3 separate regions of the Homo sapiens genome follow, and all the other regions are linked to region 1. The links come from fine-mapping of genetic effects on gene expression. A gene starts in region 1. Each other region holds a variant in brackets. All regions are shown on one strand. Distances are between the middles of the regions. Region 1 holds the start of GPR155 (G protein-coupled receptor 155). Region 2 overlaps GPR155 (G protein-coupled receptor 155). Region 3 holds the start of LOC124906096 (a long non-coding RNA gene).

What was found. PIP is the estimated chance that this variant, and not a neighbour inherited with it, causes the effect.
Region 2: its variant is fine-mapped to the expression of GPR155 in whole blood (INTERVAL, PIP 0.97).
Region 3: its variant is fine-mapped to the expression of GPR155 in whole blood (TOPMed, PIP above 0.99).

What each region holds. Positions count from the first base shown.
Region 1 is chr2:174,483,482-174,491,665 of GRCh38, reverse strand. It overlaps GPR155 (G protein-coupled receptor 155), which reads left to right and starts at 4,637. Exons shown (of 16, transcript NM_152529.7): 1 at 4,637-4,793. GPR155-DT (GPR155 divergent transcript) reads right to left here and starts at 4,278. Exons shown (of 3, transcript NR_183819.1): 1 at 4,250-4,278; 2 at 2,752-3,631; 3 at 1-2,658. RefSeq lists enhancers at 1,747-1,846, 5,017-5,086 and silencers at 4,497-4,676, 4,940-5,122.
Region 2 is chr2:174,457,240-174,465,423 of GRCh38, reverse strand. It overlaps GPR155 (G protein-coupled receptor 155), which reads left to right. Exons shown (of 16, transcript NM_152529.7): 8 at 3,752-3,836; 9 at 3,932-4,022; 10 at 5,336-5,546. Among named protein-coding and RNA genes, the nearest start is that of GPR155, 26 kb to the left of the region's middle. The variant C/A (reference allele first, on the strand shown) is at 3,894.
Region 3 is chr2:174,519,812-174,527,995 of GRCh38, reverse strand. It overlaps LOC124906097 (a long non-coding RNA gene), which reads left to right. Exons shown (of 3, transcript XR_007087309.1): 3 at 5,000-6,773. LOC124906096 (a long non-coding RNA gene) reads right to left here and starts at 4,579. Exons shown (of 4, transcript XR_007087308.1): 1 at 4,323-4,579. The variant A/G (reference allele first, on the strand shown) is at 3,196.

The sequences.
Region 1 (8,184 bases):
AGGTGGGGCTTGACCCCACAACTCAATATGTCATCAAGGTCCCTGTTTATTTCCTTCTCTCTGCTGTGGCTACCTTGGTCTCTGCACCATTCTAAGACTGGCTTCTCTTATGGTTCTAAAATGGCTGTCGGCATCTTCCTCTTGTCTAGCAAGAAAGAGAAGATCAGCATTCTCTGCAAAAGTCCTGAAAATTATTCAGCTGAGCTACTTCAGGATCAGTGCCTACCCTGACTAATCATTAAGTGCAAAGGGATGAAATACACTGATTGGACAGCCTACATTAGTTACATCATCTCTGAAGGGAGAGTGAAGTCAACTTCTCTGGAAACATGAATCCCTAAAGAGAAAATGATGCTATTGGGAAGGGGAAGGGGAGTTTTAAAGAAACTAAAAGTTTTTAAACAAAATCTGGCATCGTACTAGACATGTTCAAACAGCACATTTTAAGTCACTCTCTTTTATTTTTCTATGCTTTACTCAACTTTGATTAGACTTTATAGATGGCCCAGTTTCCACTTTTTCGAAGAAGATCATCCTCAAAATTTCGCTAGGGAGTATTTAATAGGCATTAAAAATGATATAAATCTATCTATATGAATAAATTGTTTATGGATTAAAAAGGTATTACTAAATGAGAAGTGACTAAAATCATGTGTATGAAAATCATATGTATAATCCTATTTTTCTTAAATAATCTATATTTGCATAAAATGATACATATATGGTATAATATTAAAGAAGTTATCCATAGGTATGATTTTCACTTTCTTCATTCCTTTCTGTATTATCTGAATATGTTATCATTGTTATTACTTTCATAGAAAGAAACATTAGAAGTACTTCATTTTGGAAAAGATAAAATTCACCAGGAATCCACATGTACATCATATTGCCTCAACATATATCCTACATGACCTTTGTCATTGTATCAAACCATTTGGTTTGTTTCTCCTGTCAATTTTGATCAGCGGGACTTGAGGGAAATCGGGATATCAGTGTGCTTGAAGTTTATAGGTCCCACTTATTTGTAAATGAAAGTTATGATTAATTTACAGTTTTCCCTCCATTATTCTGCATTACTTTTAGCTTTTCTTCATTTTTTCCAGTTAATAGTATAGAATAAGTCAGCATCTCACAGAATGATTAGCAGATATGGCAGTGGAATTAAGTTAGTTTCTCGTGGCGTTCATTGGTAACTACTTCTCTGAGGGTGACTTTTTAATGAAGTCTTTCATCTTTGTTTACATTTTGTTCTTAGAGTTTCCTTCCACAAGCTGCTCTGTGGAAGGAAACCTCACCAATGAGGTTTCCACAAGAAACTTCATCAATTCTGTACGGATGTCTTCTCAAACCATATCTTTATTTCTGCTCTTTCTCTCTCTTTTCTGTTTTCTCCCTAGGGGTCTACCGGAAATCTCTACATACATGTGCTGATGCCTTTATGAGAAGTTTGTTTACAGGACGGGGGGGCTTTTATTCTCATTCTCTGTCATGGACTAGTTGAGTGTTCTTAGACCAACTGCTTAATCTCCTAGAGTCTCAGATGGAGAGGATGATAACTTCAAGAGAGAAAACTGAACTAGAAAATTTCTCAAGGTTTTAGATTTGAGGTCTAAAACCACATTCATTATTTTCTCCTTGAAACTGCTTCTCCCACTGAAATAGTTCTTCCTTTCATTTTCAGGTAACAGAATAATAGAAAACAACGAAATTTTATGGCTGGACAGGATACTAGAAGCTCTCTAGCTCAATTTCTTTTCTTTATTTTAATGGATGAGGAAATACATAAGCTTGTTAAATCCTTCCTTCTCTCTCTCTCTCTTTTTTTTTTGTCGTTTTCAGACAGGGTCTCACTCTGTTGCTCTGGGTGGAGTGCAGTGGTGCGATCTTGGCTCACTGCAGCCTTCGCCTCCTGGGCTCAAGCAATCTTCTCATCTCAGCTGCCTGGGTTGCTGGAACCACAGGTGTGTGCCACCACACCCCGCTAATTTTTTTTTTTTTTAAAGACCAAGTTTTGCTCTGTCACCAGGCTGGAGTGCAATGGCACGATCTCAGCTCACTGCAACCTCTGCCTCCCGGGTTCAAGCGATTCTCCTGTCTCAGCCTCCCAAGTAGCTGGGATTACAGGCGCACACCACCACGCCCGGCTAATTTTTGTATTTTTAGTAGAGATGGGGTTTCACCATGTTGGCCAGGCTGGTCTCGAACTCCTGACCTCAGGTGATCCACCCACCTCGGCCTCCCAAAGTGCTGGGATTACAGGCCTGGGCCACTGCGCCCAGCCTAATTTTTGTATTTTTTGTAGAGATGGGGTTTTGTCATGTTGCTCAGGCTGGTCTTGAATTCCTGGGCTCAAGTGATCTTCCTGCCTTGCCTCCCAAAGTGCTGGGATTACAGGCGTGAGCCACCTTGCCCTGTCCTTCCTCCTCTTTAGCCCTATCAGTAACTGAGTCTCATCAGTTCTCCCTTTTCCTGTCTCTCAGGCCTATTCCATTATTTTTACTGTCATCACCCAAGAGTAGGTCTTCATTTCCTTATGTCTTGGTTCTTCTCCAAGTCACCACACTGTTTTTCTTGCCTTCAGTCTCTCTTTCAACTAATCATGGTACAGCTTCCAGATTACACACCCACAAATAGTGTGATCATTCTGACATGTTCCTGTGGGGAAAGAAAAGTTACATGTTTTACTGTGGCCAAAGGATAAGGTTCAAACTAACCCAAGGAACCTCCTACAGGTTGACCGTAACTTACCTCTGCAGGCCTATCTTCCAGTATTCCCCTGATAGTCAATGCTCAATAAGTATTTATTTAATTGAATTAATCTTCATACTTCCTAAACAAAAATCCTTTTAGCCTTGAGATAATTTAGATCTTCAATTTTTTTTTTAAGTAGTCAGGTTCAAGGGAAACAAAGAAGGCAGTTAAAAGTGAGGAAGACAGAGAACAAAGGAGAAGCAAAGAGAACTGGAGCAGGATCCATGCCTTTTATAGCTTTAATTTCTGCTCATTTTTCCTGCTAAGTTTCAGATCCTTTAACCTACCCTTAGCTTACTGTAATTTTTCTTAATAAGCCACACAATTTTGTATCTTTGCACTAAGATGGCCGAGATGATAGGAAGACACGGAAATTGCCATACAGAAATGTTTAAGATGCAAAGCAAGATAAAAGGTTGTAAACAAATGCTTGTAGATATCTTAAGTGGAAACATATATAAATATTTTAAAATTTGAAATAATTTTTATTTCAAAAGGCTAACTCAATTGCAGGATTTCTTCAGGTTTCAAAGTGGAGCACCATATTTGGGATACTATATATAGGTTTGTTGTCTGATGCCCATGGCAAGTTAATACACTGGGACACCAGGTTGCAGAAGAGAAAGAGGTTTAATCATAGGGCCACCAAACACAGATAGGAGGAAACCTCAAATTCGTCTCCAGGAGGACTTTGAGTCTCAGGTTCTTAAGGGTTTTAGAGTGGTCCCAAGTGTGGAGATCATTAATTGGCTGAAGAGTACAGGGCGAAGTCATGGGACAGCGAGATGAAGAAGCTGTATTCTCATGCTGATTCCCTTCTTCTGTGGCAGGGGTCTTCAAGCTGGCTGGCATCAGCTGTTTCGCTGGAATTTGGCGTCTGAAAAACATTTTAAGCAATTCTTAAAAAGCCTTACGACTCTTAACATCAGAAAGCCTATCTATAGGGACAACGGGATACAAATGTACTATCTAGCTCTACCCGACTTTCGGGTTACAAGGAAGTGGGTCAAAGTGTAGCCTGATTAATGCTTAATTATATTTTTGTCCAGAATTCTTATAAACCCTGTGAGGATAGTTTCAATACCTTTATTTCAAGAAGCTTTGGAAGTTTTCCATCAATGTAACCAGTTTCAGTATACTGAGTGGACATGCATGTAGTTCCCCACCCCCACCCCACCCCCGTACCGCAATAGAATAGAAGCAGTCATGGACGGGGCCCAGATTCTAAAACAAGCTCAGGGCTAAGGGTTTACATTTTAATCTCTTATGTAGGAACGTCAAGGTCACACTGCCTTGGTGAAGGTGGAAGGCAGGATTTTGACCCAGGTCTGATTCTAAGCCCTTGCTTTAAAACTCTATGCTATAAAAAGTCCTGGGCTAACCGGGAGCGAAACTGGCAGATCACACGAGGTTGAGGTTAAGCGGAAAGACAAGTCTGCTCTGCGTCTGTACTTGGGAAGAGGAAAAAAAACTGGACATCCCCCACGGCGGCTACCATTTTGTGGGAGCAGGGAAGCCGGAAGTCCCGCCCCGGAGGATCGCGGCTGGGAGGCTCCCAGCCGGCAGGGCGGGGCCGGGTACCCTGGGGCTCCGAGGCTGGAGGAGGGGGCGGGGACTGAAGGCGGGGTTGGGGAACGTGTGGCTCGGAGGCCCGAGGCTGTGGGTGGGGCCTGAGGGCGGGACGGAGACTCTGGGCTCAAGGCTCCTGGAAATGGGCGGGGCTCGAGGGCGGGAAGCGGCCCGTCTTGCTGGAAGTTCGGGGCTGGGGGCGGGGTCTGAAGGCGGGGCTGGGAGGGAGCGGGGCCTGAAGGCGGGGCGGGGGCGGGGCCTCGCGGCCGGCGAGGGGCTGAGCTGACAGGGCCGCATCGGCTTACCCCACCTTACTTTATCGGAACGTGCCTAAGCTGCTGCAGCTGGCACCCGGTTGCGCTCGGCGAAGAGGGCTGGGGGCGGGAGATGACGGTGGTCTTCTCCCTGCTTGGCACCCTGCGAGCACCAGCTCCCTTCTCCTCGCCACTCCAAGGTTGCAGACGAAGCAGGTGAGAGGGGCCCCTGGAGCGCGGACCTGCTGGGTCCTGGTTCTCCCTTGCGGGCACGGGGTACCCCTGCCTCTGCCCCTCAGGCCTGGGCACGTGGGCAGCCGCCGACCCTCTGCGCCCTGGCCCCGCGGCCCGTTGTCTGGACCTGCTGTCTCTGCCCCGCAGCGCCTGCCTGTGGAACGTGTGAGATCACCCGGGAAGGCTCGCGCGGGGGAGGGGGTGTCTCGTCCCCTCCGGAGACAGAACTGCCATCCCTAGTTTGGGAAGCTCCTCACTGCACGGGCGTCCACCCTGTCTTTCTTAGACTCTTCCCTTTATCCCGAGGGTACCCTCAGTATCTGGCCCTTCCGAAGGCTTCTGCCCAGGCACCTGGAGCACTGCGCCAAATTTTCTCCCTTACCCGTTTTTGGGGTATGTTAGTTACCATGACGTTGTGACTCCCGTGCCCTGGGAAGACTAGCGACCACCTTTTTCTTACGCCAGGCAAAGACCCCTGGCTGCCTTTCCACTTCCACAGCTGCCTTCCCAGGGGTTGGCTGGCAGCTGCTCTCCGAGCAGCCTATTCGGTTAGGAACTCTCTGCGCCCCTTATCTTGGAGGGCCACAGTCTGTCCCTGCAGACGAGGCAAGGAGGCAGTGCTCAGCGCTCCCTACCCTGGGTCTCTAGGGAGGACATTTGGCGCCCTGCAAGTAGGTAGGAGTGGGTGAATGGTGCGACTATTAATGTTGAAGAGTGCTCTAATAGTACCACACTGTATTACACTTATCCCACGGGATAAAGGATGTTGGATGTTTGAGAAATAGCCTGAGAGTTTAAAGCTTTCTCTATGAAGTTAGTCAACCCTCGCCTTCCCCCCGCATTTTCACTTAATAGCAGTTATTTACAGTATCAGTGGTTCGTTTATGTGATCTAAGCCAAATGTGATGTGGCTAGAAGCGGTTTGTAAGTACAGTAGCATTTCTTCAGTTCGTGCCTCAGCGAGTGGTCTTTTACTGTGAACGTGTTTGTTCTGTAACAAGCTTTGTTTTTATAGATAAAAAGGCTGGATGTAATTTTTTTTTTAAAACTTCCCTTGCTGTGGTTCCTGTTCATTTTAAAATATGCTTTAGAAAGCATATTATCTTCCCGTTTAAAAAAGATTAGGATGAAATGAAACTTTTAAAGTCATTTTGATTATTTTGACTTTACCTCAGCAGGTATTTCTTTTATAATACTGAGAAACGTTAAAAGAAACCTCATGGGGAGGGGCAGATTGCTTTTTTTTTTTTTTTTTCTTGAGACGGAGTCTTGCTCTGTTGCTCAGGCTGGAGGGCAATGGCAGGATCTCGGCTCACTGCAACCTCTGCCTCCCGGGTGCAAGAGATTCTCCTGCCTCAGCTTCCCGAGTAGCTGGGATTACAGGCATCTGCCACCAAGCCCGGCTAATTTTTGTCTTTTTAGTAGAGACAGGGTTTCACCATGCTGGCCAGGCTGGTCTCCAACTCCCGACCTCAGGTGATCCGCCCGCCTCGACCTCCCAGAGTGCTGGGATTACAGGCGTGAGCCACTGCGCCCGGCCCTTTTTTTTGTTTTGTTTTTTTGTTTTTTAATTTTTCAACGAATTGAAAGTTAATCTTGGACATTGCTACAACTATTTGACCATCACCCTGAGAAAAATGAAGAGCTCTGCCTTCACTGTTAACCATTTACTATCAAACCAAATTAAATTCAACTTATCTTAATTGTTTGGTATAAAACAAAAACTGATAAATTTATGACGCATCCCATCCCTCTTTTTTTAGTTGGTGGATCTTTTACCAGTTATGTTTGAAGAACTAACATGTTTACTTTTTTATCATTATTAGTAGTAAGACAACAGTTCCTAATAGCAATTGCTGCCGTTTTTTGAAGGCCTACTCTGTGATAAGCTGTATATAAAATATTCTATCCACACAATATCCCTCTAAGGAGGTCTTTGTTTGAGACAGGGTCTTACTCAGGCTGGAGTGCAGTGGTGTGATCATGGCTCACTGCAGAGACCTCCTAGGCTCAGGTGATCCTCCCACCTCAGCCTCCCAGGTAGCTGGGACAACAGGCACGCATGACTAAGCTCAGCTAATTTTTTGTAGAGACTAAGGTTTTGCCATGTTGGCCAGGCTGGTCTGAAACTCCTGGGCTCACACAGTCCACCTGCCTGGGCCTCTCAAAATGCTGGGATTACAGGCGTGAGCTGCTATGACTGATCCCTATAGGGAGGTTTTTACTCTCATTTTACAGTTGAGGAAACAAAGGTTCAGAAAGACTAAGTAACTTATGAGTTGATAAACCATAAAGCTCAGAATCTGTTTGACTCTCCACTGAACTTCTGCTAGTTTAAACTGTTGGTTAAAAAATATTATTGGAATGCCTTGACATGCTCGTGTTGTACAAGTAAGGGCTTATAAGCAGAATGAGTTATTAATACTCTAGGCACTTTTGAAAGTGAACAGAAGACTGGATTAATTTATCACTTTCCTGTTTAGCACTGCCTTTCCAAGTACACACCGTCTTAAGGGCTCCAAATGTTTAACGCCTTTGTTTAATTGTTTACCAGCTCCTTACTTCAAGTATGTGTATCTGTACCAACCGGTAGCTTTCCCAAGATATAATTTGATGCTTATTTGGTAAACTTCAAGTATGTGAGTAGTGTAGGTTTCATGTACTATATTGACCACTGCTATCTAATCCTAGTAGGAAAATACTTGTCCTAATCCAGATTAAATATAAGGTTTTCAAATGGTTCGGTTTATACAAGGGTAGCACAGAGAAAATTCCCTTGTACCCACGCCAGCTATCAGTTGTTGGTGATCTCTGGGCTGCCATCTAAGTCTTTTTAATGTGATATAGATGTTTGAGGACTTAACCTGAGCATTGTAAATTTCTGGAAGCATGAGCTTTTTACTTTCTACCTTATATCAGTCTACTTTAGATGGTAAACCCAGAATAATCACTTAGAAATTGGCTATTGTTGGCTGGGCGTGGTGGCTCACACCTATAATCCCAGCATTTTGGGAGGCCGAGGCGGGCAGATCACCTGAGGTTGGGAGTTTGAGACGAACCTGACCAACATGGAGAAACCCCGTCTCTACTAAAAATTCAAAATTAGCCAGGCATGGTGGTGCATGCCTGTAATCCCAGCTACTCGGGAAGGCTAAGGCAGGAGAATCTCTTGAACCTGGGAGGCGGAGGTTGAGGTGAGCCGCAATCACGCCATTACACTCCAGCCTGGGCAACAAGAACAAAACTCCATCTGAAAAAAAAAGAAAAAGAAATTGGCAATTGTCGTCATTTTAATTTCAAGATACTAATAAAAGCTGATTAGCTTTAGAGTTATCCAGACCTCATGTTCATTGTGTTCCTGGCAGCAAGAGGG
Region 2 (8,184 bases), 26 kb after region 1:
CCTGCTGAACAGGGAAATTCTGGCTCTGCCTCATGCAAATTACTTAACTTTTGAAGCCTCAGTTTCCTCATTTGTAAAACTAGGTTACAGCACCTTACAGAGTTACTTTGAGGACAAACTGAAATGTTGAGTATTTATGTCTGGTACATGGTAGGCACTAAATAAATAGAACTATGTTAGTTATTAAATAGAAGAATTAGAGGTAATAAGAGAAGAAGAAAACTAGGGGAATAAAAAGGCATGGAAATAGAAAAGGACCCAGTGAGAAAGACTGTTTCTCATTTCAGCTGGCTCCAAAAAGGATATTCAAAATGTTGTAGCACATTGCTATTTTGAAGTATAATATTTATGTGGATGCATGCATTCTGGTATGTTTGTGAAAAATTCTGTCTGGCTGTTTTGTATTCATCCTACAAATTTGAACCTATAAAATGGCACATGAAAGGAAATAGTAGAATGGTAGGAGGCAGGTGTCAGGAAGTGTCCACAAAGGACGGACCTTTGATTTCATGCCTTCAGGATCAAAAGCAGGTCCCATCTCAGTCAACAGCCTTTTGAAGTGAAGCAACAATGTGGTGAGGAATCATGGAATGAAAAATTCAGCACAAACAGAAGATGGTTTGTGCTTCTTAAAGGCAACTACATCTTGCATAGCATGAGTTTTTATGCAATGTCAAATTAAAAGAGCCTAAAGACTTTATATTTCAAAATATCGATGGACCAACTTGATGTCTAATAACTAGGCTTACTCAGGTTAACTTTATAATCAGAATAACAGAGCAGCAACTAGATCAATCAATTAAAATGTCCTAAGTCTCTCTGAAACCCCCTTCAAGCATGCACGCCAAAGTCTATTCAAAGAAGTCATTCTGAATTCCCAAAACCCAATAAAGGTGCCCTTTAACCATCAGGTTATTATGCTATGACAGAATTTTAGACCTGAAAATGTCATTTTAAGTCATCCCATTCGATCATTTTTAGTTCTACTCATTTTCATACCATCCTCACAATTTTTGCCATATCTGCATACTACTTGTTCTTTTTTCCTTAAAATTGATTTACTTTTTTTAAACTTTAATCAGTTGAGCCTTATATCAGTAAAATCCCAGGTTTCATTTGCTAATTAGTTTTTTTCAAATATGCATTAAAATAAACATATAACTAGTCAAAACATTTTCACCTTTGTGACACCTATAATCTCTACACCTTAGGAAACACTGGTCTAATTTAAATCCTTCATTTTGCAAACTGAGAAATAGGCCCAAAAAGATAGACTGATTTAGGCAGGAGCTCTCACAGCTTCAGTGAGACATCCAGGGCTAGCTGGATTCTGCCTGTTTGTATATAGTTCTTTTCACAAGGCAGGAGTGATGCACATTAGAATTTTAAAGACTGCCTTTGCTACTGTAACAAAGATGGCACCCTTTTGTGATTGGTTACTTGTTTCCCTGGCACTGCAACTACACAGTGTACAAATGGATTGAGGGAGGAAAAGTGGTAAAGAAAACCAATTCTCAAGGACCTCAATGTCAATTTATATTAAATCTAGCACAGTGTTATTTAATCTGGACAATCTTAAATCTAGGTATGTATTCTTTATATACAGCTAATATGCAATTCTAAAACCAAAGCAAATTCACAGATTCTATTCAAACAAAACTACAAACCCAGTAATTCTAATTAGCAACATTAATTAACATGACAAAGGATCTTGTTTTGCTAATGTAAATCATAGCTTGAAACATAAAATGGAACTCACTGCTATGGCTTTTTTGCCTTGCCTTTACTTCCATATGTGGGGTTTTGACCTTGTTATCTCACTGATATTCTTTCTTCAAACTACCATTTCATTTGGACTGTGCGTTGTAATATCATTTGGCCTTCACTTGACTCAAACTTAATATAAAACCCATTGTAAGCTCTGGCCAGGCACAGTGGCTCATGCCTGTAATCCCAACACTTTGGGAGATCCAGGCAGGAGGATCGCTTGAGGCCAGTAGTTCGAGACTAGCCTGGGCAATATAGTAAGACCCTCTCTCTATAAAAAATTTGAAAATTAGCTTTGCATGCTGGTACATGCCTGTAGTCCCAGCTACTCAGGAGGCTGAGGCAGGAGGATCCCTTGAGCCCAGAATTTTGAGCAGTAATTGTGCTACTGTACCCCAACCTGGTTAACAAAGTGAGACCCCCATCTCTAAAATAAAATAAAAATAAACCCAATGTAAATTCTGAAATCATGAGACTGCATGTTGGTTGCAAGGTGGATACACAGCTGACTACCACTGAAAAAAAAAAAAGAAAGAAAAAAAAAAGACTTAAAATTTCTCATAGAAATTCCCAGATCCTGAAGAATATGTCTTAGGTACCCTAGGGGTCCACAAATCTGAGTTTGAGAAACTGATTCAAGAAACAAAGAATTTAGCTTGTGTCAAAAGGCCAGGTTTCTAGTCTCACTCTGCCCTCTGCTGGCTGTATGACTTGGGCAAACCCTCATTTCCACATCTAAGGTGCTCATTTAAAAATAGAGGTCCCTTTCAACTTTAAAGTTCTAAGATCCTATAACTATGTAGAATTTATTAAATAAAATGTTACTTGCATACATAATTACATATAAGTTGTAAGGAAAGTTCAAGAACTTCAAAACATTTGTGTTTGTATTAAATTCAGAGTGTGTTTGTATTAAGTGCTATCATTACACTTAGGGCGTTTTCTAAAAACATAACCTGGGTAAGAGTTGCCCATACTTCTTAGCACCAGAAGAGGGGGATGTTTTTATTTTTAGAATTGTCCTGTATTCAATTAAAAAATGTTTTTCAGCTGGGCATAATGGCTTATGCCTATAATTCCAGAACTTTGGGAGGCCAAGGCAGGTGGATCACTTGAGGCCAGCAGTTCAAGACCAGCATGGGCAACATGGTGAAACCCATCTCTACTAAAAATACAAAATTAGCCTGACATGGTGGTGCACACCTGTAATCCCAGCTACTTGTTTGGCTAAGGCATGAAAATTGCTTGAACCCGGGAGGCAGAGGTTGCAGTGAACCAAGATCATGCCACTGAACTCCAGCCTGGGCAACGGAGTAAGACTCTGTCTAAAGAAAAAAAAAATGTTTTTCAGTTATACTTAGATTCCAAACACATGAATCAAAACAATAAAATGATTAGGGCTTTTGGAGAGAAATACTTCTCCAGACGCAGTGGCTCATGCCTGTAATCCCAGCACTTTGGGAGGCAGAAGTGGGAGGATCCACTGAGCTCAGGAGTTCAAGACCAGCTAGGGCAACATAGTATGACTCTGTCTCTACAAAAAAAAATTCTTATTTAGCCAGGCATGGTGGCATGTGGCTGTGGTCCCAGCTACTCAGGAGGCTGAGGTGGAAGGATCACTTGAACCCTGGAGGTCAAGGCTGCAGGGAGCTGTGATCACACCTCTGCACTCCAGCCTGGGCAACAGAGTGAGACCCTATCCAAAAAACAAACAACAAAAACCAGAGAGAAAATAAAATAAATCCTCACAGATAAAAAGAATTGAGTAAAGAAACAATATATGAGGGAAACAATGAATGATTTTGAATTAAAACTTGTTTCAAAATATTGAGGATAGCATTTATTTAGAAGGAAGAAATTCTAAAGCAAAAACCACACACTACTATGAAATAAGCTTGGTTTAAAAAAATAAAAAGGAAATAAAGTTTCATAAAGTCTGATCAATGTTGAGTAACTGTCTCTCTTTCAATCTTCTTATTCTTAGGCCTTCTAGCAATTTCTTTGTTTCTTTTGAAAAAGCGAGAGAGGGTACAAATTCCTGTTGGAATAATCATAATATCTGGCTGGGGGTAAGTTGGTAGTTCTCTGTTTGCTTACACCTTTCCATATAGACAGTTACTATTCAT[C/A]CTTTCTTTTTCTCTCCCAATATCACTTGTGATTACAGAATTCCTGCTCTCCTTGTTGGTGTTCTTTTGATAACTGGAAAACACAATGGAGATAGCATTGACTCAGCCTTCTTTTATGGAAAAGAACAGGTGGGAAGAGTTTACTGGCAGTTCTGTTCTTGAGAATGTCTCTTTTTAGCTCGTTATGTGCCTTGCTAGACTTATATTAAAATTAACTTTGAAAATCTATTTCAATTTATTGCATATCAGATTGGTGATCCTATATCACTTTGTCTCATCTAGAACATGAACATTTTACATGTCTAAGTCCATTTTTAGCTGAAGATTTCTAAATGCTTAAAACTTATTGAATGTTCTTAATCACACTTAGGAATTGTGTTTCCTGTGCTGGAGAAAAGAGTGATTAATTTAAAACCATTTAATAAGTTAGCAGTAATAATAAAGGTCAAATTCTTGACTCTTAATCCTATCATAAATATAAATTTCAGGACAAAACGTATCTAGGAAAAATATTCTTGAAAAGCTATAGAGTAGGTGGCTTGTGGGACCTGCAGAATTCTTTAGGAGTGGAGTCCAAAGATGTGTTTTTAAAAAGCCTCTCCACATAATTTTGATTTCTTACTCTTTTTTTCTGTTTTGCAATTTTGGATTTTATTGTGTTTTTGTGAGAATAAATAAGATTATACATATAAAAGATTTAGAGTAGTCTTGGCATCTGGTTAGTGCTCAATAAATATTAGCTATAATTATTTTTAATATCATTACCATAAAAACATCTTAGTGACTGAAGTATGCGTGAATTATACGTGGAAGTGAGCAGAAACAGGAGTAAAGAAAACATCGGAGAGAAATCATTTAGATTCCTTGTAAAGGAAACCAGTGGCTGTGTTGGTAACCAATTGTTATACATGAAAGAAGCATCTAAAACCTTGTGTAATTACAAGCAAACCCTAATTTCTCTCCAAGTAACTTACATTCCTTATATACACTTACCTTTTTAAAAGAGCTACTGTTCTAGAGTATTTAAAACTGTGGAGATATATTGTCCATCAAAAACGTGCCCTAAGATGGCTGGGTGCGGTGGCTTACACCTGTAATCCCAGCAGTTTGGGAGGCCGAGGCGGGTGGGTCACGAGATCAGAAGATTGAGACCATCCTGGCTAACACGGTGAAACCCTGTCTCTACTAAAAAATACAAAAAATTAGCTGGGTTGTGGTGGCGGGCGCCTGTATTCCCAGCTACTTGGGAGGCTGAGGCAGGAGAATGGCGTGAACCTGGGAGGAAGAGGTTGCAGTGAGCCGAGATTGTGTCACTGCACTCCAGCCTGGGCGACAGAGCAAGACTCCATCTCAAAAAAAAAAAAAAAAAAAAAAAATGTGCCCTAAGATTATCAAGATGAAGTTGTGAAAAGTGGCCTGATATCTTTTTTTCATGTCGGCAGATGATCACCACAGCAGTCACCCTGTTCTGCAGCATCCTGATAGCTGGCATATCCCTCATGTGCATGAACCAGACTGCCCAAGCAGGAAGCTATGAAGGTTTCGATCAGTCTCAGAGCCACAAAGTGGTGGAGCCTGGAAATACTGCTTTTGAGGAGAGTCCAGCACCAGTAAATGAACCAGAACTTTTTACAAGCTCTATTCCAGAAACAAGTATGATCTTTTTAATTTTATTTTTATTTATTTGAGACAGAATCTTGCTCTATCATCCCGGCTGGAGTGCAGTGGCATGATCTCAGCTCACTGCAACCTCCGCCTCCTGTGTTTAAGCGATTCTGCCACCTGAGCCTCCAGAGTAGCTAGGACTACAGGTGCCTGCCACCATGCCCTGCTAATTTTTGTATTTTTAGTAGAGATGGGGTTTCGCCATGTTGCCCAGGCTGGTCTCGACCTGCTGAGCTCAGGCGATTCACCCGCCTCGGCCTCCCACAGTGCTGGGATTACAGGCATGAGCCAGCCTGATCTTTAAATATAAAGAAACTGCTACATGCCTTTATAGCATGTATCCTAAATGTTTTGTTTATGGGAAACTTCCTTGAACTAGTTTGAATATCATGAGTGCTTGTCAAATGAAGAATTTGAATCATAGTCAACAAACTTGCTTGTAAAATTATTCATTAGATTTTTGTTTATAAGTCTTATTGTGAGTATACACTTTTGTTAAATCCTAAAACTTCCCTGGACCTGAGAATATAGAAAAAAGTAACAACTGAAGGAAGGCCCTAACTAGGAAACGAAGCACATACATAAGTTAATTTAACAATATTGTATCAGGCAAGCACCATCAATAATATGAACTAAAGGAGGCCTGTTTAAAGCCAGATTAATGATGTAAGTCAGTTTTGGGCAAACTATAGTCCATAGGCCAAATCTGGCCCACCACCTGTTTTTGTATGGTCCACCAGCTAAAAATGTTTTTTTTCTTTGTTTGTTTATTTATTTATTTTTGCCACAGAGTCTCGCTCTGTTACCCAGGGTGGAGTGCAGTACCCTTGGCTCACCGTAACCTCTACCTCCTGGGTTCAAGCAATTCGCCTGTCTCAGCCTCCCCAGTAGCTGAGACTACAGTCGCACGCCACCACGCCTGGCTAATTTTTGTATTTTTAGTAGAGATGGGGTTTCACCATATTGGTCAGGCTGGTCTAGAACTCCTGACCTCAGGTGATCCACCCGCCTCGGCCTCCCAATGTGCTGGGATTACAGGTGTGAGCCACTGCACCCAGCCTAAAAATGTTTTTTACATTTTTAAAGGGTTGAAGAAAAATTAAAAGAAGACAAATACTTCGTGACTCTTAAAAACTACATGAAATTTTAATTTCATGTCCATAATTTTATTGAAACATAGCCATGCTCATTCATTTATATATCATCTATGGCTACCTTCATGCTATAATGGCAGAGTTGAGTCTTTGGGGCCTATACTAAGGCAGTAGGTATTGGATAAACAGGAGAGGCCAAACTCAGGCAAAGTTGTATTGACAGGGTTTGGTACTTGATTAGAAGCTGGGTGAGGGCTAAGAGAGAAACTGAGAACAACTTCCAGAAATCTAGTTTAAGTGAATGTATAATTGTGGGTATTACCTAAGAAGAATTCACAGAGAACAGAATATGTAGGGGAAGATAATGAGTTCAATTTGACCCTTCTAAGTTTGAGATGCATGAGACACCAAGGATTCATTTTAGTTTCTCAGTGTACCTCTTAAAATGGGATGCTTAGATCTGAATATAACATTCCAGTTACCATGGTCCTAGGACACAGTGAGCATTCAATATTTGATGAATGCTTGTTGACTGAGTGAAGAATAAGAGAATCATTCCTGTCCTTACTTAGAAAAGAAACTTTTAATTCTGCCTAACATTGCATTAACTTATTCTGATGATTTCATCTTGAATTTATGAGCAACTAAAAACCTGCCTCCCACCCCGAGTACATTACTGAACAGTTTCTCTCCAATCCTGAATTTTTGCATCTGGCTTTTAAAAGTCTAGGACAAAGCTGGGTATGGTTGCTCACACCTGTAACCCCAGCACTTTGGAAGGATTGCTTGAGCCCAGGAGTTCAAGACCAGCCTGGGCAACATAGTGAGACCCTGACTCTACAAAAAATAAAAAATTAGCTGGATGTGGTGGTACACACCTGTAGTCCTAGCTACTCAGGAGGCTGAGGCAGGAGGATTGCTTGAGCCCAGGAGGTCGAAGCTGCAGTGAGCCATGGTCACGCCACAGCAATCCAGCCTGGGCAATAGACGTGATCCTGTCTTTAAAAAAAAAGTCAAGGCCTGGTGCGGTGGCTCACACCTCTAATCCCAGAACTTTGGGAGGCTGAGGTGGGCGGATCACAAGGTCAGGAGTTTGAGATCAGCCTGGCTAACATGGTGAAACACCATCTCTACTAAAAATACAAAAATTAGCTAGGTGTGGTGGCGGGTGCCTGTAATCCCAGCTACTCCAGAGGCTGAGGCAGAAGAATCGCTTGAACCAGGGAGGCAGAGGTTGCAGTGAGCTGAGATCGTGCCACTGCATTCCAGTCTGGGTGACAGAGCAAGACTCTGTCTCAAAAAAAGTCTAAGACAGGACTTCAGTATTTGCCTAAGCCTATCAGGACTGAGATTTCTTTGTGTCTTGATTTGTAATCAAATATATTAACTTATTTATTGTATGGTGCTTCTCTTCTCTTCTTCTCTTCTTTTGAAACAAAGTCTTTCTCTTCTCTTCTTTTGAAACAAAGTCTTTCTCTGTCTCTCAGGCTGGAGCGCAGTGGAGCAGTCTTGGCACACTGCAGCTTCCACCT
Region 3 (8,184 bases), 36 kb before region 1:
GGTACTAGGCTCAAAACTTAGGAGTCACCTTTGATTCCTCTCTTTCCCTTGGCCCCACCCCACTTCTGACATCCAAACAATCAGCACATCTCGTTATATCACCCAGATACAGACTAAGCTTGGTCACATTTTACCACTTCCCCAGCTACCACCTAGTCCATGCTACTGTCACCGTGGCCGCAACTCAGTCTTTTTGCTTCTTTTGTCCCCTTCCAATTCATTTCCCCACAGCACAAAATTATCTCTTAACGTAAATCAGATCATGCCACAGCAGGACTGAGGAGCCTCTGATGCTTTCCCATTACACTGAAACAAAGCCTAAACATCATGCTATGGTCAATAAGGCCAGTGTGATATGGCCCCTGCCTACCTACCTCTCTGAGCATCTCCCACACTCTCCAGCCACCCTGGCCTCCCTCTGACCCTTTCCCACATACTCCCTGAGCTTCTGCCTGGGACACATGCCTTCCCCTCAGACCACGTGGCTCCCTCCTTCTCAACATGCAGAGAAGCCTTCCCTGACTCTCGGATCTGAAATACAGCCCTCACCCCAGTCTCCCTCTATCCTCTTAAACTGATGGGTTTTTCCCTCACACAACTTACACAACCATGTGAAACTATATTATTTTTGTCTCTTTATTATCTGTCTTCCCCTACAAGAATGTAAGCTCCAAGAAAGTAGGTTACTTTGCCTTCGGCCAAATCCCTGGGGCCTAGAACAGTACCTAGCATGTACAGAGGCATTCAATAAACCCTTGTTGCTTGAATAATAAATACAATGCATTATACACACACATAGAAAGAGGACTTTGTGCCCAATAAACAAAATATCCATTCTTTGCAAACATCTTTGAACATTTACATGAATAGACCACAGAACACTTTTCAATCAAGTTGGTGAGACTATAAATTAGTATAAGCTTTCTAAGGAATAATTTGATAACATTTATCCAATTTTCAAATGCAAATATCCTTTGAACCAACACCATTTATTGAAAAGCCCTTCCTTTCCACACTGAATTTCATTGGCATATTTGTGATAAATTAAGTAATCCTCTGTGTACGGGTCTATGCCTGGACTCTATTCCATTCTGTTTATCTACTGTCTATTAGATCACTTTCAATGATGATATAAAGGCTCATATGGACCTGAAAAAGGTTTCTTTCCACAGCATTATTTTTTTCTACTAGTCTATGTTGTGGAGCTGGTTACTCTATACAATAATACATTTAGTAAAGATTTAATACTACGGTAATATAGAAAATGTTTTTGGTTTTGAATTTTTGTAAATTAAGGGAACTACCACTTTGCCTTTTTTTTTTTATTTTTTATTTTTTTGAGACAGAGTCTTGCTCTGTCACCCAGGCTGGAGTGCAGTGGCGTGATCTCTGCTCACTACAACCTCCACCTCCCGGGTTCAAGTGATTCTCCTGCCTCAGCCTCCTGAGTAGCTGGGGTTACAGGTGCCTGCCACCACACCCTGCTAATTTTTGTATTTTTAGTAGAGACGGGGTTTCACCATGTTGGTAAGGCTGGTGTCGAACTCCTGACCTCATGACCCACCTGCCTCAGCCTCCCAAAGTGCTGGGATTACAGGCGTGAGCCACCATGCCCGGCCCCCCTTTGCCTTTTACACTGATATCAAATATTCCTTCCCCCTTCCAAAGTTTCCTTAAGGGCATCTAAACAATACATGTTGCAAATAATACTGAAAAGGTACCATGTTGTGAATAGTGCTCAGGTATCCTAAATAAAACATCTTGTAAAACCAACACTTAGTTTGAGAAGTCACAATGCTGAAGCAACTGGTATCTCTGTGGAGATGTAACTAGGACAAGACCTTAAACTTTTTTTTGTGTTGAAGACTCTAGCAGAATAGACTTTTATTTGTCCATTATGCAAATAGGAAAAAGGAGAGAAAGCCAATCCTCTTTTTGATTTGACTGAGAAACCCTGTTAATGTTTATATCACTGGGAACATAGGCATCAACTACATTATCACCAAGGCAACAAACCAACAAGTAAGACTATGAGCCAGAATTACTAATGTTGTTGAAGGTCATGCTTACGCTATATGGCAACAATTTCTAAAATTTCTAGCATCTACAGGACTTCTTTGTTCAATAATAATTTCAATGATAAATTTACTTAAAACAGAAAAAGTGGGTAGAAGTTGGGAATATTTGTGCAAGACTTTATATCACACTGGAAATAAGACTGATGTCTTGTGAGAGTTCACATTTAACATCTTACCTCATCAGATTCTTTTACAAAGTTTTAAGCTATGAAACGATCTCTTTCTCTCCCTCTCTCTAGTTGCTATGGAGAAGAAATATCTTTTTCACCTCTTTATTAGACATTTTTTTAAATTATGAAGTTCTGTATTTTCAGAGCCAGACTCTGATATGTCATTAGTTAGCACTAAAAGCACAGTGTGACCTGTGAGTCTCAATTTTAGAAATGGGAAATGGGTTGTTAGGATTTAACTTGACAGCAGTGCAATTGGAACAATTTATCTTCCATGTTACAAAGAACAAGAGTCAGACTGACATTGGACTTCTCATCAGCAACACTGTGCTATGGTTTGAATGTGTCCCCTCCAAAATTCAGATGTTAGATTAAACCTTGTTGGTCAATGTGATACTCTTAAGAGGTGGGGTTTTTAAGAGGTGGTTAGACCATGAGGGCTTCTCCCTCACAAATGGGATGAAGGCCGTTATAAAACAGGCTTCAGGCAGCTTTCAGCTCTCTTGCCCTTCTGTCTTCTGCCATGAGAGGACACAGCGTTCCTTCCCACTGGAGGATGCAGCAATAAGAGTCATCTTGGAAACAGAGGACAGCCCTCACCAGACAACTGAACCTGCCAGCACCCTGACTGTGGACTTCCAGCCTTTAGAACTGTGAGAAAGTACATTTCTGTTCTTTATAAATTACCCAGTCTATGATATTTTGTTATAACAGCACAATCGGACTAAGACAAAAAGGTACTAAAACACAACGAGGAAATAGCTACTGTTATTGGTAACATGATTATGAACTGCAATAGTGTGGCCAGGCAAGCACAATTAAGTGTGAAGGTGGAATAAAGACACTTTTCCACACATGCAAGGACTTGAAGCAATTACCTCCCATGTGCCCATTTTTGGGAAATTGCTTAAAAATATTCTGCAGCAAAACAAGGAGAAAATGAAGAA[A/G]GGGGAAGACCAGTGATCCAGAAAACAGTGAAACAAACCCAAAAAACAGGAAAGGGAAGTTGCAATGTGACTTGCTATGAGGCAAGATGAAAGAGTAACCAGTAGAGATTGGAGGAGAAGGTGACGCCGCAGGAGGAAAGTCACCAGTGAAAAAAGTGTACATGGAGGAGGGGAATGGTTTTAAGTAATAAAATGAAGTAACTGAAAAAAGGTTGAATATATTATAAAGGCAAATGACACAAGAGGTGCAAAAAAAAAAAAAAAGGCAGCTAGAAATACCACAAGAAAAAAAAAAAACCATTGGCCAGAAGTGGTGGCTCACGTCTGTAATCCCAGCACTTTGGGAGGCCAAGGTGGGCAGATCACTTGAGGTCAGGAGTTTGAAACCATCCTGGCCAACATGGCGAAACCCCGTCTCTACTAAAAAAATTCAAAAATTAGCTGGGCATGATGGCGGGCACCTGTGGTCTCAGCTACTCAGGAGACTGAGGTGGGGGAACTGCTTGAACCCATGAGGTGGAGGTTGCAGTGAGCTGAGATTGTGCCACTGCACTGCAGTCTGGGCAACAGAGGGAGACTCCATCTCAAGAGAAAAGAAAAAACAAAACAAAACAAAAACATAATTTTTTAAAAAGGAAATGAAAGCATAATGTGCCCCCTTGCTTCCAATGTAAAGAGAGACCTGCTCTCTAGGAGTAAAAATTTAGTGTTGCAGTGTAATGGCTCATCAAATTGAATAAAGTCTGTGTAGATTAGGAAAGATCTTCAAAATTAGGCTCTGAGATGTGTACCCGTGGTCTGAGAAGCACCAGAGAGCCACAACTTGTTCTTAAGGAAGAGAATGAAAAGTTAAAGGCAGCATTTTAGGCAAGGTAGCCTGGCAGTAGGAGAGGAAGGAGGCCAAGTGGTATGTCTGTTGCCATTTTCCAGGTATGAGGTGGAGGAGTAAACCCACAATAGGGAAGGAAAAAACAAATCAGGAAGGCATTCCAAAGGAGGATGCTATAGGACCCAAGTACCAGGATTGGATAGAGGAGAGGGGATGGTTCCAAAGTTTTCTGGTCTGTGAACCAGGAAAATGGTGAAAGCTTTTATCTAGTATTGCTGTTTGATCATTGTACACATACTTTTCAGCCTCATTCTTGTCCTCCTCCTTCTTCTTTTCCTCTTCCTCTTCACAGGTTAATTTTAGGCTCCTTGAAGGCAGAGCCTAAAGCCTGAGTGTGTTTTATTGACAACCAGCTCTGAGGCCTACCACCATAGGCACTCAGCTGATGCGTGTGGTTGATGGTGGTGGTGGTGATGATGATGTCACAGTGCTTTATAGATGGGGAAAATGGGGAAGAGGAGTCATTTGGGGCATAATGATGATGGGGCCGGGTGCAGTGGCTCACACCTGTAATCCCAGCACTTTGGGAGGCTGAGGCAGGTGGAACACCTGAGGTCAGGAGTTCAAGACCAGCCTGGCCAACATGGTGAAACCCCGTCCCTACAAAAATACAAAAATTAGCCGGGCATGGTGGTGGGCACCTGTAATCCCAGCTACTCAGGAGGCTGAGGCGGGAGAATTGCTTAAACCCGGGAGGTGGAGGTTGCAGTGAGCCAAGATTGCGCAACTGCACTCCAGCCTGGGTGACAGAGCGAGACTCAGTCTCAAAAAATAATAATAATGATGATGATGATGATGGAAATCAAACTTAGTAAGATGCCAACTCCTACTGGGAGATGGAAAAAATACTTTTTGAAATAATTACTGCTACTTCTTGTTTAATGAAATTCCTTATTTTATGTTTCCTTTCTTTAGCATCCTTTACTTAATGCCATGTCTACCTATGTAGAATTAAAACCAAGCAGTATTGGGAGGTCTGAGCACAGTCAAGGAAACTCACTTCCAAATTCTTCTTTCAACATATGTTTTGGCTGAAAACAAATGCACTCATTTTTAGGAAGCAGAACTACTTAAGCAAGATCCAGCCTACGAGCATGGGTGTTCTACATCTTGTTTTGTTCCTATTTCTGAAGACCAAAAAAAAAAAGCATTATTTTCAAAGGAAGCACTAGGTGGCACTTGTGATGTATTCCACAGTTGCCTCCGATCCTTTTTGAAAAAGGTTTGATAGAAAAAAAAATGCAATAAATATTAAAATGGGAAAATCGTCATTACAATAATGAAGATCAGCATGATTGTGTTTACTATGTTACTATGTATGAGCAATATCTTTATGCAGTATTTGCATTTAAAATCTGAGCTTTGCTTTCTTGATAAAAACTGCAAGACGGGAACTGACATTTCTATAACATGTGAAAACCCCACATCGCTAAAATAATAAGTAAAAATGTAATGCCTGGTTTGCAAAAAGATTGACTATAAATCTTCTTTTAAATAGTTTCTGTCTTCCATTTAGAGTGTTTGAATTTGTAAAAACAGATAACAGAATAAATTTTTCAAGGTCCATCTATTGTGAAAAGCAAAATTTAAAAAATCATAACTTGAAATAAGGCACTGCAGCTTCCAGGTTTTGACTAATATTAACCAAAAAAAACAAAAGAAAGAGAAAGAAAGAGAGATGAAGATTAAAGCAGATATCTCAGGGTTTTTACCATCTTTAAAGTAATAACGTAAAGACTTTAAGCAAATGTATTCTTTTCTGTTATTCAGTTAGTTCCCATTTGGCAACTGCTTAATTATCTCATGGTCCCATTTCAATGTCGAGAGATTGCAAGCTTTTAACAGAAATTCAGGTTGAGAAGGAACTATGAAAAATAGAAAATATTGTTGCCAAATACCATGGCAACAACTGTAGCCTGCAGACCTTTTCACGATACTGCATCTTTCCCCTACCTATTGTCTAGCCTTGGCAGTAACCATTTTTATGGATTAGGTTCTCTTGTGGCTTCATCTCACTTTTCTACCTCTTATTCTTCCTTTGTTTCATTTTTGTTCCTTATTTTAAATGTTTTTTTTCTTGCCATACCTCTGTAGGATAATTTAACACAATGAAATCCTTTTGGAACAAGCTGGGTTATAAATAAATTAATAATAATGCTAATGTACTGTCTTGTAATTGCACTAATGTGTGGGTTTGGATGAAATTGACATTTTGAAGGTAGTATCTCATATAGTAGTAAACTCAGCATGTCAGAACTCAGAGCTAAATATGCAAAACAGCGACAGTGCTGAAAAAAATCTTGGATCTCGGTGTAATAGTTGAATGTCTTTGGATGCAAATGATGGAAATGGATTCTGACTAACAGAAGCAAAAAGAGACTTTTAACAGGGTGCTAGCTAGGAACTCAGGATAGATGGGAGGCTGGAGAGCCAAATCAGGACACAAGACAGGAATGAAGGCAATTCCTGGAGTCCAGGCAGCATGAACAACTGAAGGATCTTATCTGGGTGCTGCTCCTCCAGTATATGTGTTCCAATATTTTCCCATTCCTTATGCGCCTCCACTCAAGATGAAAAGTTCCAAGAGTACAGTCTGCTTGATGTTTGCTGGGCATTCACAGATTTATAGTACTAAAAATATGTGAGACCAGGTGCAGTGGCTCATGCCTGTAATCCCAGCACTTTGGGAGGCCAAGGCAAGAGAATCACTTGAGTCCAGGAATTCGAGACCAGCCTGGGCAACATAGTGAGACAGTGTCTCTACAGATAAATAAATAAATAAGTTAGCCAGGCGTGGTGGTGCACATCTGTAGTACCAGCTACTTGGGAGGCTAAGGTGGGAGGATTGCTTGAGCCAGGGAGTTCAAAACTGCATACAGTGAGTGGTGATCGCACCACTGTACTCCAGTCTGAGTGACTGACAGAGATCTTCTCTCTCTAAAAAAAAAAGGAAATTTAGTATGGAATGAAAGCTCTCTTGAAAGTTTGCCAAAACATAAAATAGCATACATTTGGGAAAAGAAGTTATCCCAGGAGTCCAGTTGTCTTACTTTGGGTCACATGTAGCTCCTTGGTTGCAGAGAGGAGATGAGAAATATTGAGTTACATTCCGATCAAGACTGTCCTCCAACTGGAAGATGCAATAGGAAATTGGGGTACTCCTGGGAAGGGTGCTCTTGGTTGCTGGCCACCGAAAAAACAACGTATGTGCATTACATTACAGCAAGAGTAGATTGTAAGTTTCTGTGTTGTATTCTAAAGCTCTAGCGTGGGGCAAGTAGTGTCTCTGAAAAGTGCATATCCATGCAGAACCTCAGAATGCAACTTTGTATAGAAATAGAGTTACTGCTGATGTTATTAGTTAAGGATCAAGACGAGACCTCACTGGATTAGAGTGGACCGTAAATCTAATGATTGTCTTTATAAGAGTCAAAACAGCAAGCACAGAGACACACAGAGAAGCAAGTGATGTGAAGACGGAGGCAGAGATTGGAGCAATGCACCCACCAGGCAAGGAACACCAAGGATTGCCGGGTCGCCAAAAGCTAAGAAAGAGGCATGAGGAGGTTTCTCCCTCGGAGCTTCTAGGAGGAACTAAGCTTACCCACACTTTGATTTGGGACTTCTGGCCTCCTGAATGGTGACAGAATACATTTCTGTTGTTTTAAGCTACTCATTTTGTGCCACTTGGTTATAGCAGCCATTGGAACCTAATGCAACCCCTAAGAGCAGATTTTTTGGCAAAACCCTAAGAAGTAAAACCATGAGAATAAGCACATGGTAAATGCATTTTTGTGACTGTGAATACAAATGCATTTTTGTGACAGTGAACCTAATGCAACCCCTAAGAGCAGATTCTTTGGCAAAACCCTAAGAAGTGAAACCATGAGAATAGGCACATGGCAAATGCATTTTGTGACAGTGAATACATTTTGTGACAGTGTATTCCTTTTTATTTCAAAAGAGAATAAATCTATGAATGGTTTAGTTCATTTATGCCACAAAGAGCTATTGAGTCCCTCTTATGTGCTGGGACATTCTAGGACCTGGAAATACAGGGGTGAACCAATGGGACAGACTCACTAATCTCAGAGGGCTTG